Regions from separate parts of the Homo sapiens genome. Here region 1 is linked to region 2. A link means that fine-mapping ties the variant in region 2 to the plasma level of a protein whose gene starts in the linked region. Region 2 holds a variant in brackets. A gene starts in the other region. All regions are shown on their reverse strands.

The links. PIP is the posterior inclusion probability: the model's chance that the variant is causal. Protein levels are from antibody-based Olink assays in UK Biobank. Linkage for the fine-mapping came from a reference panel and not from the study's own genotypes, which makes the PIPs less certain.
Region 1: REEP4 starts here. The variant in region 2 is fine-mapped to the plasma level of the REEP4 protein (UK Biobank, PIP above 0.99).

Annotation. Positions count from the first base shown.
Region 1 is chr8:22,139,812-22,145,192 of GRCh38, reverse strand. REEP4 (receptor accessory protein 4) reads left to right here and starts at 3,286. Exons shown (of 8, transcript NM_025232.4): 1 at 3,286-3,742; 2 at 4,496-4,568; 3 at 4,945-5,021; 4 at 5,110-5,230. The coding sequence starts at 3,711. RefSeq lists silencers at 3,243-3,372, 3,383-3,532 and enhancers at 4,297-4,904, 4,905-5,381.
Region 2 is chr12:11,420,427-11,425,807 of GRCh38, reverse strand. No RefSeq gene overlaps it. Among named protein-coding and RNA genes, the nearest start is that of PRB2, 28 kb to the right of the region's middle. The variant A/C (reference allele first, on the strand shown) is at 2,124.

The DNA of each region.
Region 1 (5,381 bases), not on the chromosome of region 2:
CCTTGGGCAGTGGTGCTTGCTGTGTGACCCTGGGCAGGTCAAATCCCTTCTCTGAGTCTCCAGGTTTTCATTTGTCCTCCAGAGCCCCTCTCAGCTCTCGCATATCACAAAAACCCTTCGTTTCTCTCTCTTCAGCGAGCACCTGTGAGCAGCTGTGCACAGAGGAGTGGGGTCTGGAGCCTGGATAACATGGGTGTGAATTCTGGCTCAGTCCCTTTCCATGGTGTGAGATTTCAAGCAAGTCAGCTGATTTCCCTGAGCTTCAATTTCTCCTTCTGTGAAGCAGATTTAAAAACCCCACTTCATGGGTTCCTGATTCTGCCAGCCGGGTGAAACCAGCTAGTAACATTCAGCCACGTTACTTAGCCTATTTGTGCCTCGGTTTTTCTTATTTATAAAATGAGTATAATCGTGATACCTACCTGACAGGGTTTGTTGTTTGTTTTTTCCAGCTTAGGCTGGAGTGCAGTAGTGCGATCTTGAGTCACTGCAACCTCAGCCTCCTAGGTTCAATTAATTCTCCTGCCTCAGCCTTCCAAGTAGCTGGGACTACAGGAGCACGCCCCCACCCCTGACTAATTTTCATATTTTTAGTAGAGATGGGTTTCACCATGTTCACCAGACTGGTCTCGAACTCCTGACCTCAATGATCTGCCGTCCTCGGCCTCCCAAAGTGTTGGGATTACTACAGGCATGAGCCACCGCATCCTACCCTGACAGGATTATTTCTCATGAGAGTGAAATGCATTAGTATATGTAAGTCCATTTGTATAGTGTGTCCAGCACATGATTATGATTTGCCTTGGTCTATGGGAATATATGAAAACAGAAGTGGCTCAGAGAGGGGTGTTTTGTGCAAGAGGAGGAGGTGGATCTTTGGAGAGAACTGTCTGTGGGTGATGGTTCCTCACCCATCCTCAGTCTTGGAGCCCCTGTGCCCCATATCTTACCTGCAGCCTCTGACCTGGCCTCCTCACCCCCAGCAATAGGTGACTTACCTGCTTTTCACCTCCTCAAATATGCTCTTAGCTTAGCAGGCACCTCCATCATTCTGGGGAGGCCTGTCCTTCTTTTCCAAATGGGAAACGGGCCCTTATCCTGTGCTTGGGAGAGGTTGCCAGGGAAAGTGGGTTGAGTCTCCCAGACACGCTGGCACTCTGCTGCCCAGTAGAAAGATAAATATCACTTTGACAGCTGCTGCCCCCAGGGGGGAGCTCTTCTGAGGGGTGGGAGGCACTTTCCTCCCTTGGCCCGAGTGCCTGGCTTTCTGTGTGTGCCTGCTGGGTCACTTGCCCTGGGGCTTGTCCACGTCCAGAGTGCTGCTTAGCAACCCAGTGGAATTGGGTGACTGTGTCAACAGCTCAGGACCAAAGGCTGCAAGAGGCAAGGTCTACTCACTCTGCCAAGACCAGGGATGGTGACACTCCTCAGCTGCCAGCCTCTTGCCCTCCGTGCTGAGCCTTGCTGTCAGCGCAGACCTCTGACATCTCTTCTCTGAGATTTCCCAAGCACAGGCATTGGGACCAGGAGTCTCCATACGGGAGACCATCCCAGCTGAATGAGCTTTGGGCGGGCCCAGGTAATGTTTCCCAGCAAATGGGGGTAGACAGAGGCCTGTGATGCTGAGGTCAGGTGCGTGGCCCCAGAAGGCAGCCAGCAGGGAAGGGACAGTTCTGCAGCACGCACCAAAGGACCCGAGGCTCACGTGTGCAGTGACCTCCTGAGTCATGGATGTCCCTTTCAGCTGCTCCCCTATTCAGTCACAGCTTTCCTCCTTCAGGGAGACCCAGGACACTTTTCACCTAGAGAACCATGTCTGTGCCTAAAGATGGACAGTGGCTGGGGCCTTCCTTAGGAGTTCCTCTAGCCCTTGGCCTTTTTGGTTACTCCAATGTGTGTGTGTAAGGGGGGACAGGTAAATGTGAGGGTTGGTTAAGAGAGGAGAGGGAGACATGGGGCCTCGGGGAAGTTTCTCCTGTGGGCTGGTTTCACTGCTGGCTCTCACACCCAGCAATACCAATAAAACTGATGACAGTAATTAAGACCATATAATCACCGTGTGTTTATTTATCCCCCAGAAGCCTCCTTTCCCTGGCCCCATGATTACCTATTCCATCCTTATGATAGCTGGTGGGGGTTAACTGTGGCTCCAATAAAAAGCAGTAACTGCCTGTGTTTCCACCCCACATGCCCGGACAGCTTTGCTCCCACCCTCTGCAAGGTGGGGGGACACTATTTTCAGAGGGAACAACAGAGGCAGTAAGCTGAAGATGTCAAAAAGAATGAAACCTCACAGGGCAAGTAGTAGAAGCAGCAACGTTTGCCTTCTTTTTTAGAGCCTTCCCCCTTCTTCCTGGCATCTGCCTCCCTCCCAGAGGAACTTATCCGGTTCCATGGCCCTCTGCAGGGCCACTCAGCCTGCAGCTGCTGATCTCTCAGAAGACTGATCAAGCCAAGCATGTAGCCACCAGCCAGCAATAAATACCACTGGGTGATACCAGGAAAGTTACTTTTCACCACTGAGCATCCTATTTCCTACATGGTTAAAAGAAGTTTGCAAAGACTAAGACCTTGCGTGCAAACGTGCATTACAAAATGGCAATGGTTGATACTACTATTAAGGGCCCAGGGTTATTTGTGTACTTGGCTCAGAGGAATAGGTGGAATTTCAAACTTCTGCTGAAGGAGTGTGGGAGCTGAGAGCTCTACCCAGAATGCCTCAAATCATCGCGGTCAGCCTGCCCCGGAGTCAGGGATCTGGAAAGGCATCCCAGAGAGAAGGGAACCCCTGAAACCTGGTGGGGCAAAAAGTCCCTCAGGTTCCCTCTCCCCCCACACCTCCCCCCTTTCCCTCCTGGACCCACTGGTGTGAGACCCGGACTTGCTGGCGCTCAGCCAAGCTTCCTTCCAGCTCCTGACTGAGCCTGCAGAGGAGATCCTTCCCTCTACCCCACCAACCGCATCTCATGCCTTTACCCGGTTCACAGAGGGGAAAATGAGGCGAGAGGGAAAGACACCGGGAAAAGCCAGTGAAGGGTCGCTTAAACTCTGGAGTCCAGATTTTCTTTGTGTGCCGACCCCCGCACTCCCCCTGCTTTTTTGTTACAGCTTCCCACACGCTAATCTTTCCGATTGGGAAGGTGGCTCCACTGTGGGCCCCACGCGCGAGTCCCGCGGCACATCGCCCCTTTAAGGGGCCGGCCTCTCGCCTCCCTGACCTCGCCCCGCCCCCTCCGGGGCTACACTGCGCCTGCGTGGCAAGCCGGAGCCCTGGGGTTGGGCAGCACTCGGTTCCGTGCAACTTTCAAGTGAGTTGCGAACTCCGCCCTGTAGGCCGGTGCTGGTGGCCCGGCGCGCTGGAACCGCGGCGACCCGCTCCAGCGCGGGACCAGCAGCAAGGGCCGAGCGCCAGGTTCTCCGCGGCAGAAAGGGCGGGTGGGAGCTGTAACTGCCCCGGCCGCGGGGCGCGCCCGCTCCCAAGTCGGCTTCCTCCCCGCCGGGGCCGCTTTGCCTCGGGTCTCCCCATTCTCCAGGTCCCCTGAACTGCACAGTCGGAGGCCGTGGGCGGCGGGCTCTGCCTCCGCCGAGGGACAGCCGGATCGCCCCTCTGCTTCCCGCAACTGCCCTGATCACCCCCCGTCCCAGCCCTTGAGTGAACGTCCTTCTGAGCGGCTTCCTGGGGTCCTCCCCACGTCCCAAAGGCCGGCAAGATGGTGTCCTGGATGATCTGTCGCCTGGTGGTGTGAGTATGGCCGCCCTCAGACCTCCTCTACCCCGGGGTGCCGTCCCGCCCCTGTGGTGGAAGCTGTGGACGTCTAGTGGGAGGAGGAACTTTCTGAGCTCCACCCTCCAGCACTCCATGCAAGGGTTAACGGACCTGTGGGCTTGCACGCGGTGTCTGGGGCACCGCAGGCTACCCGCCCCACCAAGCCTCGTTGGCTGAGAACGACCCCTGCCGCACGCCACACACACTGCAAACAGATGCGTGGAGCCGAGGGCCACAGGCCTACCTTGCTGCCCCTTGGCAAACACAAGGTGATATGGCACGTTGTGGGCGGAGAATCCAGGTGCCTGCTTGCCATCTGAGCAGTCACATGACTCACCATCCTATTCCTCACCTTTGAGTATGCCAACATCTGGCTCACATAGCCCTATCTGCAACCCAGCAGTGTCAGGTCTGGTGACCCTGGGCCTGATTGCATGCCCATGGGAGGGGACAGTCTGGTGTTCTCACCCACTTCGTGGAGTGGCTGTCCTCTCACTCCATCATGCACCCATGGGCCACCGGTGCAGGCCTGGGCAGGCTTGGGATGTTTGTAAACAGCAGGGTGGGGAGGTGGCCTCCAGGGCTCTGACTCAGGCACGGGTTGTACAAGCCAAGCGAGAAAAACAGGGCGGGTACTGCCACCTTGCACCCCAGTGGGGGGAAATGGCCACTTGGCAAGGTGGGAGTGGGGCATGGTGCCCCTCACACTCCCCATGGCTGCTCTTCCAGGCTGGTGTTTGGGATGCTGTGTCCAGCTTATGCTTCCTATAAGGCTGTGAAGACCAAGAACATTCGTGAATATGTGAGCGTGGGGGTTTGGGTGTGTTTAATAGGACTTGGTGAGGTGGGGAGGGTCTCAGTTGGCCTCTCCCTCCTCCAGGGGCAAGGCTGTGTGGCACATCCTGAGTGGAGTGGGGAGGGAGAGAGAATGGGCCCTGTTCAAGAGGGTGTAGATAGAGGGCAGGCCATCGGGGTGCCTGTGGAAGATCTGGTGGGTGAAGCTTGTTGGAGGCGGGCATAGGAATGAGCAGCAGTTTCTCAGAGCTCCTGTCCAGCCATGTGTGGGGGAAAGCAGCTATGCAGCCGGACAGGCTCCCTGGAATCTCTGGGCTGGGCTGGCCTGGGTTGGGAGTTGGTGCTGCAGGCCCCATGCTGACCTCTGGGCGCTCACCCCACAGGTGCGGTGGATGATGTACTGGATTGTTTTTGCACTCTTCATGGCAGCAGAGATCGTTACAGACATTTTTATCTCCTGGTATGGACGCAGGGTCCGCAAGCCATGGGTCAGGGGTGGCCCCCCCAGCCCTGCTCCTTGGCTCACCCTGCCCCTTGTGCTGTGACAGGTTCCCTTTCTACTATGAGATCAAGATGGCCTTCGTGCTGTGGCTGCTCTCACCCTACACCAAGGGCGCCAGCCTGCTTTACCGCAAGTTTGTCCACCCGTCCCTGTCCCGCCATGAGAAGGTACCCCAGGGGGAAGCGGGAAGGGAGGCTTAGGGGTGGGTATGAGGGAAAGAGCCCTGGACCTGGGATTTAGGATGCTGGGGACACCGGGGTTCTATCCCAGTCCTGCTGCTATTGAGGGGCAGGACCTTGACAGGGCCCAGCCTACCTC
Region 2 (5,381 bases):
CACCCCGCCTCGGCCTCCCAAAGAGCTGGGATTACAGGCGTGAGCCACTGCGCCCAGCCGACACTGCATTTTTGAAACAAGAATAGGATGTTATTAAATAAAGGAATGACTGGAAAACAAAAAGAAATATTGGCAATTATAAATTCAGTTGATGATAAGCGCAGTAGAAGATAAAGTTAAGGAACTCTCCCATAAGATAGAATGAAAAGAGATGATCCATGGGTGAGAAAAAAAAATTCAACCAACATTAGACAAAGAAAACAGAGACTATATGGGAAAGAAATAGTCAATGAAACACTAGATTTCCCAGAACTTAAGGTGTATTCTCCATATTGAAAGGGCCCAATGTTGATCCGCAGGCCCACACTTAACCATTTGCAGTGCCCAGTGCAGGAATACAAATGGAGCCCCACCTACTTTATAGCCCCTACTCTATAAGTTATAAAGTGTCTAGACCCTAGATTCATGTCAGGTTCCACATAAGTCCTGCAGTCTGTCTCTTGGAAACTGCCTTTCTCAACTAGCCAGGAGGCTAAAGGAACATGTGTTTCCCTGCATTAACCCTGACTGCAAGCTGGGAGGTGGGAGGATGGAGAGGGGTAGGGCTGTCTGCTGGAGCAGCAGGGTGGAAGCTGGGTGGGGGCCAAGCATTGACCTGGCCAAGCTTTTGTGGGAGCCTGCTAGGCAAGCGATGCTCTCTGCCCTGCCTCACTTCTGATTTGGGTTTCCCAGGAGGTTCTAAGCAGCTCCCCAAATGATATTACTGACCACAGGAGTAGTAGAGAGTGCATTTATGGAGGGAGAGTGGGTGAACCTGTCTGCCCAGATGTGCTCTTTGGTCTTTTTAAGCTGAAAAACATTAAGCAAAAGCATTCATTTTTTTCTCTGGTGTCCCAGAGCAGAAGCTGTGAATTTATTCTCATTGTACCTTCTCAATTCTGCATCCTCAGGACTTGAGGACCACAGTTCTGCCTGTGCCCCTCTCCCACAATTCCTGTTTTTTATTTATTTGCTGGACTTTTAAAATATTTTCCAAGGAGAGTGAAAGGAATTAAACCATGCGTTTGGTTTTGGGGTGTGTGGAGACCAATCTAAAATGTAGGGCCCAGCACAGCCCCTGCAACACCCGGAATAGAATACTGAGTGCCCAGCACAATAAATGGAAAGAGATCCATATCAACTTAAATCTAATTAAATTTTAGGGATAAAAGGATGATCCTCAAGATTCCAGTGGAGGAAAAAAACAGTTTTACACTAAGGATTGAGAATTAGAGTGAAAATGGAAGGGTAAAAGTTAGAAGATGGTGTCAGAAAGATTCTGAGCAAAAGTCATTTTCAACCTAGTGTCCTATATTTGGCCAGATTATCAGTCAAGTGTGAGGCCAGACTAAGCACATTCTTAGACATGAATGATCTTGAAATGTTTCCCCTCTCATGTGGCTCATTTGCAACAAGCTATGGAAGAATGGGTTTCACCAAAGAAGAAGGCTGAGAAAGAGGGAGGCATTAACTCAGGATATGCATCACCCTATTTGAGAGAAGAAAATAAAATTTCCAGGACAAAGGCAAATTATCTGAGAAGTGTCAGTGAGGAAAATTGTATGAAGAGGGATTTTACAAGTCCGTTGGAAGTGTCAGGAAGACTTAGATGTTTAAAGAAAACCAAATAAGTGAGAAAAAGGAGGTAATTATTAACTCCAGGAAAAACAAAAGGTTTTGTAAGGAAGGAAATATAAGCGTAATTAATAGGTACAGGGTAGTGATGATATTGGTGAACAAAAGGCAAATAATATTTCCTCATTCTAAAAATGAAATCACAACCAAAAAGTCATCAGTACTTGAAACTGACACCTCACTTCCTAGCAGGGCCTACTAGAAGGAAGCCAATGCATCCCTATCATTCACCCCACTGTGTCCACATTAGACACAATTTGGGCAGAGTGAAATTGTTATAGAGATCAAGTGGGGACTGAGAGATTGAGGGTGGGAAACTTTTCCTTCTCATCCCCTCTAGGTGCTTGCTTCACTGTGAAGTCAAATGAAGGAGACGCCTAGAGATTCACTTGGAAAGGATGGCCTCTCCATAAAGCTATTGGACATGGCTGCTGGTCTTTCCCAAAGTA[A/C]AAGATGTGAGAAAGGGAAAGAGAGAAAGAGAGAGATCAAGACAGTGAGACAAAGAGACAGACAGAGTGAAGTTGCCAAAAAAAAAAAAAAAATGAAGCCACAGTTTCTTTTATAACATGATCTCAGGGGTATTAATATATACTAACACTTTCCTCATATTCTATGGGTCACACAGACCAATCCTGATATATTAAGGTGGGAACCACACAAGCATGTGAATATCAGGAGGAAGGAATCTTGGGTATCAGCTGTCTCCTAATGACAACAATTTTGATACAAAAATAAGCAAGTTAAGGGGATTGAGGATTTTTGTGTATTCAAAGAAGGCTTCAAAATGGTGACATTTGAACAGATTTGAATAAAGGGACAAAACATGCTTGATAAAGATATAAGCAAGCTTGGTATATTGGCATAGTGTTAAGAGGCCAGTGTGGCTAAATTAGTGAAGTAAATTAGTTATAGAGAAGTCAATAAGTTCAAAGATAGGAGATAGGCAGGGGACCAATTATGCAGAACCTTGGCTTTAGAAACAGATTTGGATTTCATTATTATGAAAATGATGGAAGTGGTGAGTACAAAAGCCCCTATAGAGTGTGTGGAAGAGAAAATGGGAGGTGAGAACATGGCGAACAATAACTATAACATTCTTTTCAAAGATTTTTGCAATAAAGATGTCAGACAAATTGTGTGGTAAATGGAGAGGCATTAAATATGTAGAGAGAGCTTTGTAAAAATGGGAGATATTACAGCACATTTGTCATAAAGAAGAACAAATTGAAGATGCAGGGAGAAATGGAACATAATTACGGAAGCAAAATCCTTGATTAGGTAATACGGTATGGAATCTAGCATGAAGGTAAAAGATAGGGCCAAGGAACTTCACTTACCATCATGAGAGAAGCCAGAGAATATGTAGGTTTGAGTTCTGTGTGGGTTGGTCAATGTGGTGGTAGTTATGGTGAGATCCTTCTTTCCTGATTTCTTTGAACTTAGTGAAGTTTCTGAGGCCATTGATAGGGTGTGTCCAAATTCCTTACTGAACCATCCTTGACATATTCTTTCAACATGGTGTATTTTTTTTTTTAATCACAATGTTGACTTGTTTATATACTATTGAGTATTTTTCCTAATGGAATATTTCTGCAGATCTGTATTAGTCTGTTCTCGCATTGCTGTAAATAACTACCTGACACTGGGTAATTTATAAATGAAAGAGATTTAATTTACTTGCAGTTCTGCAGACTGTACAGAAAGCAAGGCTAAGGCCAGCCTGGTCTTGAACTCTTGACTTCAAGTGATCCAACTGCCTCAGCCTCCCAAAGTGTTGGAATTACAGGCATGAGCCATGGCACCCAGCCAGATGGAAGTTTAAGAAGACTTTGCATTTCAACTTCAAAATGTCGTGAATTAAACTTTCATATTAAATGTGCACCAGTATACACAACAGACTGGCAGGCACTTACTAATAAAATTTTTAAAAAAATATTATGACTAAAAGACAGAAAATGATAAATAAAAATATATACAAAGTGATACTTTTTTCTTTTTTTCTTATTATACTTTTTTAGGGTACATGTGCACAATGTGCAGTTTAGTTACATATGGATACATGTGCCATGTTGGTGTGCTGCACCCATTAACTCATCATTTAGCATTAGGTATATCTCCCAATGCTATCCCTCCCCCCTACCCCCACCCCACAACATGCCCTGGTGTGTGATGTTCCCCTTCCTGTGTCCATGTGTTCTCATTGTTCAATTCCCACCTATGAGTGAGAACATGAGGTGTTTGGTTTTTTGTCCTTGCGATCATTTGCTGAGAATGATGGTTTCCAATTTCATCCATGTCCCTACAAAGGACATGAACTCATCATTTTTTATGGCTGCATAATATTCCATGGTGTATATGTGCCACATTTTCTTAATCCAGTCTATCATTGTTGGACACTTGGGTTGGTTCCAAGTCTTTGCTATTGTGAATAGTGCCGCAATAAACATACGTGTGCATGTGTCTTTATAGCAGCATGATTTATAATCCTTTGGGTATATACCCAGTAATGGGATTGCTAGGTCAAATGGTATTTCTAGTTCTAGATCCCTGAGGAATCGCCACACTGACTTCCACAATGGTTGAACTAGTTTACAGTCCCACCAACAGTGTAAAAGTGTTCCTATTTCTCCATATCCTCTCCAGCACCTGTTGTTTCCTGACTTTTTAATGATTACCATTCTAACTGGTGTGAGATGGTATCTCATTGTGGTTTTGATTTGCATTTCTCTGATGGCCAGTGATGATGAGCATTTTTTCATGTGTGTTTTGGCTGCATAAATATCTTCTTTTGAAAAGTGTCTGTTCATATCCTTCACCCACTTGTTGATGGGGTTGTTTGTTTTTTTCTTGTAAATCTGTTGGAGTTCATTGTAGATTCTGAATATCAGCCCCTTTGCCAGATGAGTAGATTGCAAACATTTTCTCCCATTCTGTAGGTTGCCTATATACTCTGATGGTAGTTTCTTTTGCTGTGTAGAAGCTCTTTAGTTTAATGAGATCCCATTTGTCAATTTTGGCTTTTGTTGCTATTGCTTTTGGTGTTTTAGACATGAAGTCCTTGCCCAAGCCTATGTCCTGAATGGTATTGCCTAGGTTTTCTTCTAGGGTTTTTATGGTTTTAGGTCTAACATTTAAGTCTTTAATCCATCTTGACTTAATTTTTGTATAAGGTGTAAGGAAGGGATCCAGTTTCAGCTTTCTACATATGGCTAGCCTGTTTTCCCAGCACCATTTATTAAATAGTTTTCTCAGGTAGCGTGATGACTCCAGCTTTGTTCTTTTGGTTTAGGATTGACTTGGCAATGCAGACTCTTGTTTGGTTCCATATGAACTTTAAAGTAGTTTTTTCCAATTCTGTGAAGAAAGTCATTTGTAGCTTGATGGGGATGGCATTGAATCTATAAATTACCTTGGGCAGTATGGCCATTTTCATGATATTGATTCTTCCTACCCATGACATGGAATGTTCTTCCATTTGTTTGTATCCTCTTTTATTTCATTGAGCAGTGGTTTGTAATTCTCCTTGAAGAGGTCCTTCCCCTTCCTTCGTAAGTTGGATCCCTAGGTATTTTATTCTCTTTGAAGCAATTGTGAATGGGAGTTCACTCATAATTTGGCTCTCTGTCTGTTATTGGTGTTTAAGAATCCTTCTGATTTTTGCACATTGATTTTGTATCCTGAGACTTTGCTGAAGTTGCCTATCAGCT